3 linked regions of the Homo sapiens genome follow. The protein of the gene in region 3 purifies or fractionates together with the protein of the main gene of each other region. This does not show direct contact. Each region holds a gene or a part of one and is shown on either strand. Other genes may lie near its edges. The genes, in order: RRP15, RSF1 and FAM133B.

What was found.
Region 1: the proteins of FAM133B (region 3) and RRP15 fractionate together in Homo sapiens (co-fractionation; one large-scale study listed by BioGRID). This does not show direct contact.
Region 2: the proteins of FAM133B (region 3) and RSF1 fractionate together in Homo sapiens (co-fractionation; one large-scale study listed by BioGRID). This does not show direct contact.

Annotation. Positions count from the first base shown.
Region 1 is NC_000001.11:218,288,282-218,291,932, reverse strand, and holds part of RRP15 (RRP15-like protein), read right to left. Parts: intron 1-3,651.
Region 2 is NC_000011.10:77,814,072-77,817,722, forward strand, and holds part of RSF1 (remodeling and spacing factor 1), read right to left. Parts: intron 1-3,651. UniProt on the Homo sapiens protein: Regulatory subunit of the ATP-dependent RSF-1 and RSF-5 ISWI chromatin-remodeling complexes, which form ordered nucleosome arrays on chromatin and facilitate access to DNA during DNA-templated processes such as DNA replication, transcription, and repair.
Region 3 is NC_000007.14:92,587,562-92,591,940, reverse strand, and holds the start of FAM133B (protein FAM133B), read left to right. Parts: upstream 1-1,550; 5' UTR 1,551-1,649; coding exon 1,650-1,673; intron 1,674-1,891; exon of another isoform or gene 1,892-2,081; intron 2,082-4,379.

The sequences.
Region 1 (3,651 bases), on a different chromosome or scaffold from region 3:
CTGGGAGGTTAAGACTGCAGAGAGCTCTGATTATGCCACTGCACTCCAGCCTAGGCAACAGACCAAGACTTTGTCTTAAAAAAAAAGGGGGTGGGGAGTGGGGGGCCAGCCGCGGTGGCTCACGCCTGTAATCCCAACACTTTGGGAGACCAAGGTGGGTGTATCATGAGGTCAAGAGATCCAGACTATCCTGGCCAACATGTTGAAACCCCGTCTCTACTAAAAATACAAAAATTAGCCGGGCGTGGTGGCACGTGCCTGTAGTACCAGCTACTCGGAAGGCTGAGGCAGAAGAATTGCTTGAACCTGGGAGGCGGAGGTTGTGGTGAACCGAGATAGCACCACTGTACTCCAGCCTGGCAACAGAACGAGACTCCATCTCAAAAAAAAAAAAAAAAAAAAAAGGAAAATTCAATGATTTCTTTCTTTTTTTTTTCCTTTTTCTTTAATCTCAGAGTTTTGTTTTTAAAATTTATTTATTCATTTTTGAGACAGAGTCTCACTCTGTCAGCCAGGCTGGAGTGCAGTGGCACAATCTTGGCCCACTGCAACCTCTGCCTCCCAGGTTCAAGTGATTCTTATGCCTTAGCCTCACAAGTAGCTGGCACTACAGGCATACACCACCATGTTGGGCTAATTTTTTGTATATTTTTTTTTTGGTAGAGATGGGTTTTGCCATGTTAGCCAGGCTGGTCTCAAATTCCTGACTTTAAGTGATCTGCCCACCTTGGCCTCCCAAAGTGCTGGGATTACAGGTGTGAGCCACCATGTCCAGTCTAAATTTTTTATTTTTTGGGACAGGGTCATGCTGTGTCACCCAGGCTGGAGTACAGTGGCACAGTCACAGCTCACTGCAGTCTCGAACTCCCAGGCTCAAGCAACCCTCCCACCTTAGCCTCCCAAGTAGCTGGGATTACAGGCACACGGCACACACCACCATATCCAGCTAGTTTTTTCCATTTTTTTTGTAGTGACGGGGTCTCACTATGTTGCCTAGGCTGGCCTCAGACTCCTGGGTTCAAGCAATCCTCCCACCTCAGCCTCCAAAGTGCTGAGATTACAGATGTATGCCCCCCGCATGTGGCCAAGGAAAATCAAACACTTTCTTTCTGAAAACCATTTCAAGTGGAGCTCTTCTTTGTCTTCAAACAAAAACACACATAAGGCTGGGAGCAGTGGCTCATGCCTGTAATCCCAGCACTTTGGGAGGCCAAGGCAGGCAGATCAATTGAGCTCATGAGTTCAAGACCAGTCTGAGCAACATGGCAAAACCTCATCTCTTCCAAAAATACAAAAATCAGCCAGGTGTGGGTAGTGTACGCCTATAGTCCCAGCTAATCCAGAGGCTGAGGTGGGAGGATGGCTTGAGCCTAACAGGCAGAGGTTGCAGTGAGCCAAGATTGCACCACTGCACTCCAGCAGCCTGGGTAATAGAGCCAGATCTTGTTTCAGAAAACAAAAACAAAAACAAACAAACAAACAAAAAACCCAAAAAAAATCCACATAAGACAAGGTTATGTATTGATAAAATGACAAAAATGTTCTGACCAGAGGCTCACAGGAGCCTAAAACTGTATTTCCTCTAGAAGCAATGGTTCACTAATTCAGGGATTCAGGGTTTCCTGCAACTTTACTGAACATTACTGTAACTAGAATCAACTGCGAATTCACAAATTGAGAGTAAGTATTTATAAACATTTATAGTAATTTGATATTACCATGATGTCCAACAATGTGGTCATGTTTCCAGTTACTCTTTTTCATTGATTTTTTTTAAAAAAAACACCTGTCTATTACAGATTGGAGATTAAAAAACAAAACTCAGAATGGTCCTTCAACATTGATGGTTAAAGAAGCAATTGCCTAGAAGACTGAAGGGAGTAAGGCTGCAATGACAGGCCCAACAGATAGGTACCCTATGAACTAATGTAAACAAAAGAGATGCAGGCAAGGCCAGGCACAGTGGCTCATGCCTGTAATCCCAGCACTTTGGGAGGCCAAGGTGGGTGGATCACCTGAGGTCAGGAGTTCAAGACCAGCCTGACCAACATGGAGAAACTCTGTCTCTACTAAAAATACAAAATTAGCTGGGTGTGGTGGTGCATGCCTGTAATCCCAGCTACTTGGGAGGCTGAGGCAGAAGAATCACTTGAACCCTGGAGGTGGAGGTTGGGGTGACCTGAGATCATACCATTGCACTCCAGCCTGGGCAACAAGAGCAAAACTCCATCTCAAAAAAGAGAGAGAGAGAGATGCGGGCAAGAACTAAAGTAGTGGCAACAGAATAAATGGATTAATTAAACCAAATAGATATGGAAGCAACAGGAAGACTAAAGGATGACACTTGTGTTTCCAGCTTGGATGGGAGTAGATGGCAGTGTCTTTCTTAGAGACAGAAGCAGCTTTGGCAAAGAAAATGTGTCTATGGCATAACCAAGCAGACACAATCAATTGTTATCAACATCGTTATCACTGATCTTGAATTTTACCAAAAATATATGATCTAATGGTTAGATTATGGAATAAAACGAGTGGAATAACAGATAACATCTTGCACCTATGGAGGTAACAGTTTTCTACTAGGAAGCAATATGATATACTGGAAGCACTATTTCCAAGCTTCTTTTCTTATCTGTAAAATAGAAATGCCATCAGCTACCTTACAGGGTTACTAGAATAATTCAAACCTCTTTTCTGGGGAGAGCTCCAGCTTACAAATACCACATTACCAAAGGTGGGAAAACTTATTTGGCAAAAAGAGATGGGACTAGCAGTTTTTTTAGGTCAGAAGAGACATCATCGTCATCACTAATATTTATGAGTGGGTACCATGTGCCAAATATTAAATGCTTACCATATATAAACTCATTTAATTGTTACAACAATCCTAAAGTAGACATTATTATTATCCTCATTTTGTAGATGAGGAAATTGGGGTAGATAATAATAACTAGCACAAAGTCACTCTGAAAGGTAGTACCATCACAGGTGCCTCTTATACAATTGAGTGAACAGGGGAATTTGCTTCCAGAAATAACATATGGATTTTAGGAGAAAGGAAGGAAGGAAAGAATACTCTGGTTATAAACATTGGAAGTGCTATAGAAATCTGAACACAAAAATGTCCCTTGGTGATGAAATCTTCTTGAGTGGGAGGGAGAAAAGTTTGTCTCCATACCAAAGTCTCCTTGTCCCCAATCCTTTCTTTCCTTAGATTCAAAGGCCCAACGCTTTCACTTTCCAGATACTTTTTAAAATTATCTATGTCCTCCTGATTCCTCAAACATATTAAGGTAGTGGTCAAGAGCATAAGCTCTACAATCAAACTTCAATAATTGTTGTATCATTTATCAACTTGCTTATCTGCTTATGTACAGAAGTGGGCAAGTTATAAGCCTCTGTGCCTCAGTTTTTTAAATGTAACAGGAGGATAATAGCAGCATCTATCTCATAGAGTTGTCAGAATTCTCTGAGCTGATATATAGAAGGAACTCAGAACAGAACCAGGCACATAGGAAAGTTCCAAAAGTATAACTATTGTTATTATCCAATTCCTCTAACAGTGTAGTATGCCCAAAACCTATGGTGCTATAAGCTCACATGAAAGTTGCCTGTTTGCAAAATTGAATACTTTCTTTTTGAAAAATATTT
Region 2 (3,651 bases), on a different chromosome or scaffold from region 3:
TGCCTGTAATCCCAGTTACTTGGGAGCGTGAGGCAGGAGAATCACTTGAACCCAGGAGGCAGAGGTTGTAGTGAACCAGGATCGCGCCACTGCACTCCAGCCTGGGCCACAGAGCGAGACTGTCTCAAAAAAAAAAAAAGTTTTGGCCACAAGTGGTGACTCATGCCTGTAACCCCAGCACTTTGGGAGGCCGAGGTGGGAGTATCACCTGAGTCCAGGAGTTCAAGACCAGCCTGGACAATACAGCAAGACCTCATTCTCTACCAAAAAAATTTTTAAAAATTAGCTGGGCATGGTGGCATGTGCCTGTAGTTCCAACTACTCGGGAGGTTGGGGCAGGAGGATTTCTTGAGCCCAGGAATTCAAGGCCCTAACTCTGGGGGGGAAAAAAAAGGACAGAGTCTCGCTCTGTCACCCAGGCTGGAGTGCAGTGGCACCATCTTGGCTCACTGCAACCTCTGCCTCCCAGGTTCAAGCGATTCTCCTGCCTCGGTCTCCCGAGTAGCTGGGATTACAGGCGCCTGACACCAGGTCTGACTAATTTTTGTATTTTTAGTACAGATGGGGTTTCACCATGTTCGCCAGGCTGGTCTCAAACTCCTGACCTCAGGTGATCCGCCGCCTGGGCCTCCCTAAGTGCTGGGATTACAGGCATGAGCCACCGTGCCCAGCCGAAAAAATACATTTTTATAAAGTAGGCATTCACCTCAGAAATCCTTTGATAATGTTTGAAGCAATACCAGTTTAATACTGTTTAAGTCAGTTTCCTCTATTATTGTGGTTCAATTGTTTAGTGACTTGGAAACCCCCAAAATATGGTTTTTTTTTAATTTCAGTGCCTCCTTTCTTCCTAACACACTGGTGCAAACCTCATACAGAGCACACTGGAGCTAGCAGGCACTGCACTTTATGGCATACAAGTGAAAGAAAGCGTAAAATGGAAGAAGCAGCCCCTTCAAATGGCTAAAGGTGGTGTGACTTCAGACATGAGGATCAGGAAATGGAAGTAAAGGGGAAGTGGAAGAGTAAGGAGAGAATGCCTGCTGTTCTCTCTAGTTTAGGCATCAATTTGCCTGGAGGCACTGCTTGTGCCCAACAGTACAAGAGCGAGCAAAAATGTTTAAAAGTTAGCTAATGCAAACCTAACGTACAGATATGACCATATAAAGCTAAACAAATTAAAAATCAAAGCCTGCTAGAACATATGTAATTACAAAGTGTACATTATAATTGCCCATATAATTAAATGTTTTTAAAAGAAAATAGAAAATACCCTAATACCTTTTGTGGGATCTACTCTACAATAAAAACAGAAAACAAACAAAAAAAGCCAAGCATAATATATTAAGACTATACCCATCAGGTAGAGTAAAATTTTATTAAATCTAACAACACACATAACTGTCTTCCTTGAATACATGATTCAGTTTAACATGTACTTTAGGCCTGAATTATTCTTTTTCATATTGCATGTGGTCATACATCTCACCATAAAATTGTTAGATAATTTTAGTTTACAACTGTAGACTAGAATGCACGGACTATTGCTCCACTTGATAAAATCTCAGAGAAAAAAAACTAAGTCTTTGAATGATGTCATTAGTTTCAAGCTCAGTTTAGCTATTTCTTACTAGATTAGAAATTTCTTTTAAAAGGCTCATGTTTAATGTTTTTTTAAAAAAATAATCCCCACAATATTTACTGTAGCTACATCTGTACATAGCAGATGCTCAATATATATATTAAGTGAATAACCTCACTAATAAATGCTTGCTTACCTTCTTACCGGTGAGGTCTGTTTAAGAACTTAACAAAACATCTAAATTTAAGGCAAACTTCTTAATCATTAAAAGACTAAAAAGTAAGCCAGTTTGCATTAACAGGCTCATGTTAGCCAGACAAGTCCCTCTGTCTCCATTACCTCCTAGTTCCTAGGACAATGACAACAACCTCCCTCCAAACCTCCGTAACTTTACTCTATGACATATCGAAAATGGTGGAGATGAAATCTGTTTCTCTCTTTTCATCTAATAAGTGCCCTAAAGAATATTTGCTTTTTCAAAGGCAGAAGAGACACAACTAAAAAGTTTCAACCTAACCAGGCTCTGGCCCCAGCAATACTACTATTAATGTATGTATGCCCTACCAGTGTCTACCACTGTAGACTCATGCAACCTCTAGTACATGCACCTGGTAAAATCTTTTGTTTAAATCAACACATGTGGCCCCAGTTACAGTAATCACCTTTCCACTTTATCAAATGCACCTAAAAATATATTGTTACACACAGATCAGTTACAGTACCAGTAAGAGAGACCATAGTAAGTTATAGTTACAATTCCAGTTAAAAAGGCATTTTTTTAACTTTGATATTTTCACTTCGAGTTAAAATTCAAATCATTAAATGCAAAAATGAAACAAAAAACTAATGGCTCAACTTACTTAATATCATACAACTAATTCAGCCAACCATAGTATAAACTATGAGAATCCTAACACATTATCTGTATTTACCTTAATAAATTTATTAGATATATGTAACATCTCAACCAATATCCAGACTGTTTTTAAAGAATACAGTAGTATAGTTTCCTCTTGAAAAGAAATATTCTCTGCAGGAGAGGAAAGATACTTAGGAGCCTTGGGTGTCAGGGATCTCACAAAGTCAACGTCAACTTTATCCATAACCACCATCATCTACCTCCAGTTAGGAGAAACCTGGGGAAGTCCACACAAAGCACAGAATTGGGAGGACTAAAGTAGACTGCAGGGAGAGGAGGATAAAACACCACCTTCATTTGGCACATCCTTTTATAACTAGTATCAACTATAAATCTAAATTTTTTGTTGACAATTTCAGCATATATGTGGGCTTTTCAAATAAGAATTTGACTAACACCAACAGTTAGCTGTATACACTTGAAATCTCTCTCTGTAGCTTGATTTTCCTCCTGAAAAATAAAGGCAATGACACAATAGTCCCTTCTTTCTTGCCCCGAAATTCAATGATAGTTTCTAGAGCAAAGGTTCTCAAACATTCTAGCTTCACGGCACCCTCAGTATCTCAGTAATTTTCTCACAGCAGCCCTAGGCCAGAAATAATAACACTTCCACTTATTAAGTAGTCAGTAGCCATGTGAAAAAATAACCTAGCTAAATTTCAACAAATAATGTTTTTACTTCATTCTTAACCATAATTACTTGTGAAATGTGTATTACTGTTGGGCACTGCACAACTTTTCAAACCTTGGAATCAGAGTGGACCCTGCTATCCTCTTTCCTGCTGCATACTGACTTTTTTGTGAATTTTACCACAGCAACCGCTAAAAAACCAGCTTCACAAAGACATATCATCTATAGAAATGTGGCACAACCTTGAAACCATGAAGTATGTCAAGGCAGTAGCTCACCTGGCAACCAGCAAATTTCGGCTACCACTGTATCCTACTTGAAAATTTAAACTATCAGATGGAGTTGGCAACAATGCTCTAGGGTGCCTTGGTGCAGTTTGGAAACCATGATACTATGGCAAGGTATATAATTTTGTGGCTTTGGACTCAGACTTGGGTTGGAAATCATATTCTACCATTAACTATAGACTCTTAAGCACCTTAATCTATTGAGCCTTAGTTTCTATGCCTGCCAAATAGG
Region 3 (4,379 bases):
ATGTTGGAGTATTAAAAATAATATCTGTCAAATGCCTAGAATATTTAAAACATGAAAAATAAGCCAGGAAAGAAAGAATAACTTAATATTAATAGGTTCTCCTCTTCCTCTTGTGTATAAAAAGAAGCCTGTCTTCAGTCAGAGTCCCCAGCTTAAGTCGGGGGTAATGGAGGAGGAGGAGAAATGAGAGACTGGAGGCCTCATTTTGGAAAGTGGGTTACTGAGGAAGAATCAACACTTAGTAGGGAGCAGAACCACCAAGGACTGCATGTGAGAGTTTGGAAAAGTTTTGAGACAGAAGATGGTAGTTGGGAGCATCTGTCATATAGTGTAGCATGAAAAATGCAGGGAGGGAGGGAGGCAGAGATCGGGAAAGATGATTTTAAAGCATGTTCTTGTATGTAATTAGTGTAATTCCCATTTTGCCATTTCCAAGAGTCCGGAGAAGATCCTAATTGATTTTCAACTACTTCCTAATGATACTTGCTAAGATGAACCCAGAGGGGTCGCTTTATCTATAAATACTTACTAAATATGATTATCTTCTCTGGAGCCCAGATCATCTTCCTTAAAGTTGCAGTGCAGTAGTGCCAATATTACGATATGCTATGCAGTAAAGTTGGCCCTGTGTGTGTTTATTGCCCTTACGAGTTTATAAACAGGCTCCTTGACGATAGGGATTTTTCTTAATCATCTTTGTGCCCTACCCAGCTCCAGCTTCCAGCCACCCAGTTAGTGAAAACTGTACAAACTACATGTTCAAAAATTAGTGTGAAATGAATGCACAGGTGATGAATGAATGGGATTGAAATTAAAGGGTGATTTCGTTAGCAGCGTCTATGACAGCACTGCCTTTCCCCCCACCAGCTGATGGGCTCCGTGAGGGACCAAGGCTCTTTGGTCCTCACTTTGTCCCCAGCACTTGCACTCTGTCAAGCACAAAATAAGCATCGGGAGAATCTTTGTGTCCCCTCGAATGAGTATTTCAGTGTATCAAGAATGGAAGAAAGGCCAAGCGCAGTGGCTCATGCCTGTAATCCCAGCACTTTGGGTCGAGGCGGGCGGATCACTTGAGGTCAGGAGTTATAGACCAGCCTGGCCAACGTGGTAAAACCCTGTCTCTACTAAAAATACAAAAAATTTAGCCCGGCGTGTTGACGGCCGCCTGTAATCTCAGCTACTCGGGATGCTGAGGCAGGAAAATCGCTTGAACCCGGGAGGTGGAGGCTGCAGTGAGCCTAGATCGTGCCACTGCACTCCAGCCTGGGCGACGGAGCGAGAGTCTGTCTAAAAAAAAAAAAAAAAAAAAAAAAAAAAAAAAGAATGGAAGAAAGCAAAACAATCCAAGGCCAAACTGAAGCGAGCTGCCTTGGTGGGGCTCCGGTGCAGAAGCGCAGCGTCGCCTGCTCTTGGGTGCCTAATGAACGACCGGACTCCTGCAGGCGCTCCGCCAACTGCAGCGATCTCTGGAGCCGGCCTGTCCTCCACAGAGATAGGGGGCGCTGTAGCAGAGCGCGGCCGTCGAGTCCGCGTGGTGCCGCTCTCTAGGCGGAGTGGGGAGGCGGCAAGAGGACCTGCGGCAGGCCCTCTTCGGCAGTCTCTCCGGCCCGGTTTCCCTCGGCGTGCTACTGTGCGCTCGATCCAGCACCATGGGGAAGCGGGACAATCGGGTGGTGAGTACTCAGCCGGGAAAACAGTGGGGCGACGCAGGGCCCGGCGGCAGGACAGCGAGAACCCTCGCTGTTCCCGGCCGGGCCGGAGGGCAAGCGGCAGCCCTCAGACGTGGGGCCTGGAGACCCAGCACCCTCCGCCGATCCCAGATGCGCGTGCGCCGCGCACGCAGTTGGCGCTTTAGGGTTCCCAGCTCTCTCTTGCCCGCCCCTTTTTTCTTCCCTCACCTCGTCGCTCTTTCTGGCGCTGCTGGTTTGCACTCTTGCCTGCTGTACGCGGGCCCCCAGTGCCCACTTAGAACCGCGAGGGCTCGGGGAACCCCCCCCACACCTGGCCCCGCCATGTAACTCCGAAGACTTAGGCCCTTGGACGCATCCGACTCACCCGCCCCTTGGTATCGGCCGCCCCAGGTCCGCACCCCTCTCCTGCGCACCCAAGTGGGAGGGAGGCACAGAGGCCTCGACGCGGTCCCTGTGCCGGAGAGCCAGCAGCGCGCCTGGTTTTAGCGACAAGCAGGCTCCCGTTTGAAAATGGGATGGCAGCATTTGCTTTCGTGTCTCCAGCGCCCTGTAGGACCTGGCCCCCATAGACACTGTGAGGGAATGAATGGCGTGAAAATAGTTGGCTTTCGAGTCCAACACAAAACTGGAATGTCAGTTTTGTTCCGTCGGAAGTTGGGTGACCTAGAACAAGTTACTTTTCTTCTCTGTGCCGTCGTTTATAAAAGGGGATCATTATTATCTACAACCTTACAGATTAATTGAAATCACAAAAGGCAAGATGTGTGAGCGAGTACTGGGCATGAAAATTATTACTCTAGTGAATGAGATAAAAGAGATGCATAAATAACTTACAGCAGAAAGAGTAGGAAATGGTCCTTGATAGTTGTTAGAGATTCTAAAGGCATTCAAAAGAAAAGGTGCTTTTGAGAAGCGGAGATGGGAGGAAAGTATTCTAGACCGCTGGGGCGGGGAGGGGGCTGAAAAACTCAGGTTATGAATCAGATTGAATGAGTAGTAAACATAATGAAATAACAATAAGCTTAGGTTGCAGCCTGACAATTTCTGGGCTTGCCTGTGACAAAGTTTTAGCCACTGAGTAGCAAAATGAGGAAAATGCACGTAAAACGAATGTGCTACGTTTCTTGAACTCGCTTTTTTATTCAACAATTATTTGCAAGCTGTGTGTGTCTCACACCAAAGGAGACTTAACATTTACGAAATGATGACACTTGCCATCTGTAGTAGCCAGTTCTTGCATGGCTTTTATAAAGAAAAACCTGAGGCTGGGTAATTTATAAAGAAAAGTGTTTAATTGGCTCACGGTTCTATGGGCTGTACAGGAAGCTTAGCGGCATCTGCTTCTGGGGAGGCCTCAGGGAGCTGTTACTCATGGTGGAAGGCAAAGCAGGAGCAGGCGTCTTACATGGCAGGAGCGGGACCAAGAGAGGGACGGGGAGAGTTGCTACACAGTTTTAAACAACCGCATCTGTTGAGAAATCATCTCTATGCAGTGCTGGGGAGAGGAGGATGCTAAGCCATTCATGAGAACTCCGCCCCCATGATCCAGTCACCTCCCACCAGGCCCCACCTCCAACATTGGGGATTACAATTCGACATGAGATTTGGGCGGGGACACAGATCCAAACCATTTCACCATCTTAAAAACTTTGTAGTTCTGTATAGTCTTTATAATGGAAAATGTCTAGGAACCACTGTGGTAGTGAATCTTGATTACAAGATAGCGGGTTGTTCTTTCTCCTGGCTGTAGGTGAGACTTTGTTGTGCTATCTTGATTGTCATGGCGTTGAAATTATGTAGCATAACACCATTTCAGCATAGGAGCATCCTTAGGTGTTTGAGTATTTTGGGCTCTTCTAATACCCTTGGGCCTTGAATGTTTAGAGATCACCTGACCTTGGATGCAGTTTCATATACAGACCTAAAATGTTTCATATTACTGAAAAAACGTTTTGGTTGAAACATTCCTCTAAAACATTTGAAAAACTTACCAAATTAGCTTCATTTACTAGAACATTTTGATAGCTCTGGGCTCTACTTACTACTTTTGGTATGCAGCTATGGCACAGAGTATTCTGGTAACATTTTGTGTGCACTTCAAAGATTGGGATTAAGAACAAGAAATTAAGAGGTAGAAGACACGGATTGTCTAATTCAGTCTCCTCATTGCATAGAGGAGGGGTAAGACTTTAAACTGGGACCAAAACTTCAGTCATCTGACACTCAATTCTGTACATCTTAACTCTTGATTTTCTTTTTAAGACTTTTTTTTTTAAGCATTTTTAGTTTTACAGCAAAATTGAGAGGAAGGTACAAAGATATCCCGTTTACCTCCTGACCCCACTCGTGCATAGCCTCCCCATTATGAACATCCTTCACCAGAGTGGTACATTTGTTAAAATTGATGAACCTACATTGACATGTTACTATCATCCAGTCAGTAGTTTACATTAGTGCTCACTCTTAGTGTTCATTCTCTATGGGCTTGGACAAATAAATTTATTTATTTATTTATTTAGACACAGTATCTCACTCTTGCCCAAGCTGGAGTGCAGTGTCGCCATCATGGCTCACTGCAGCTTCAACTTCCCAGGCTCAAGGGATGCTCTCACGTCAGCCTCCCAAGTAGCTGGGACCACAGGTGTGTGGAACCACACCTGGCTAATTTTTTGTTGTTTTTTTGTAGAG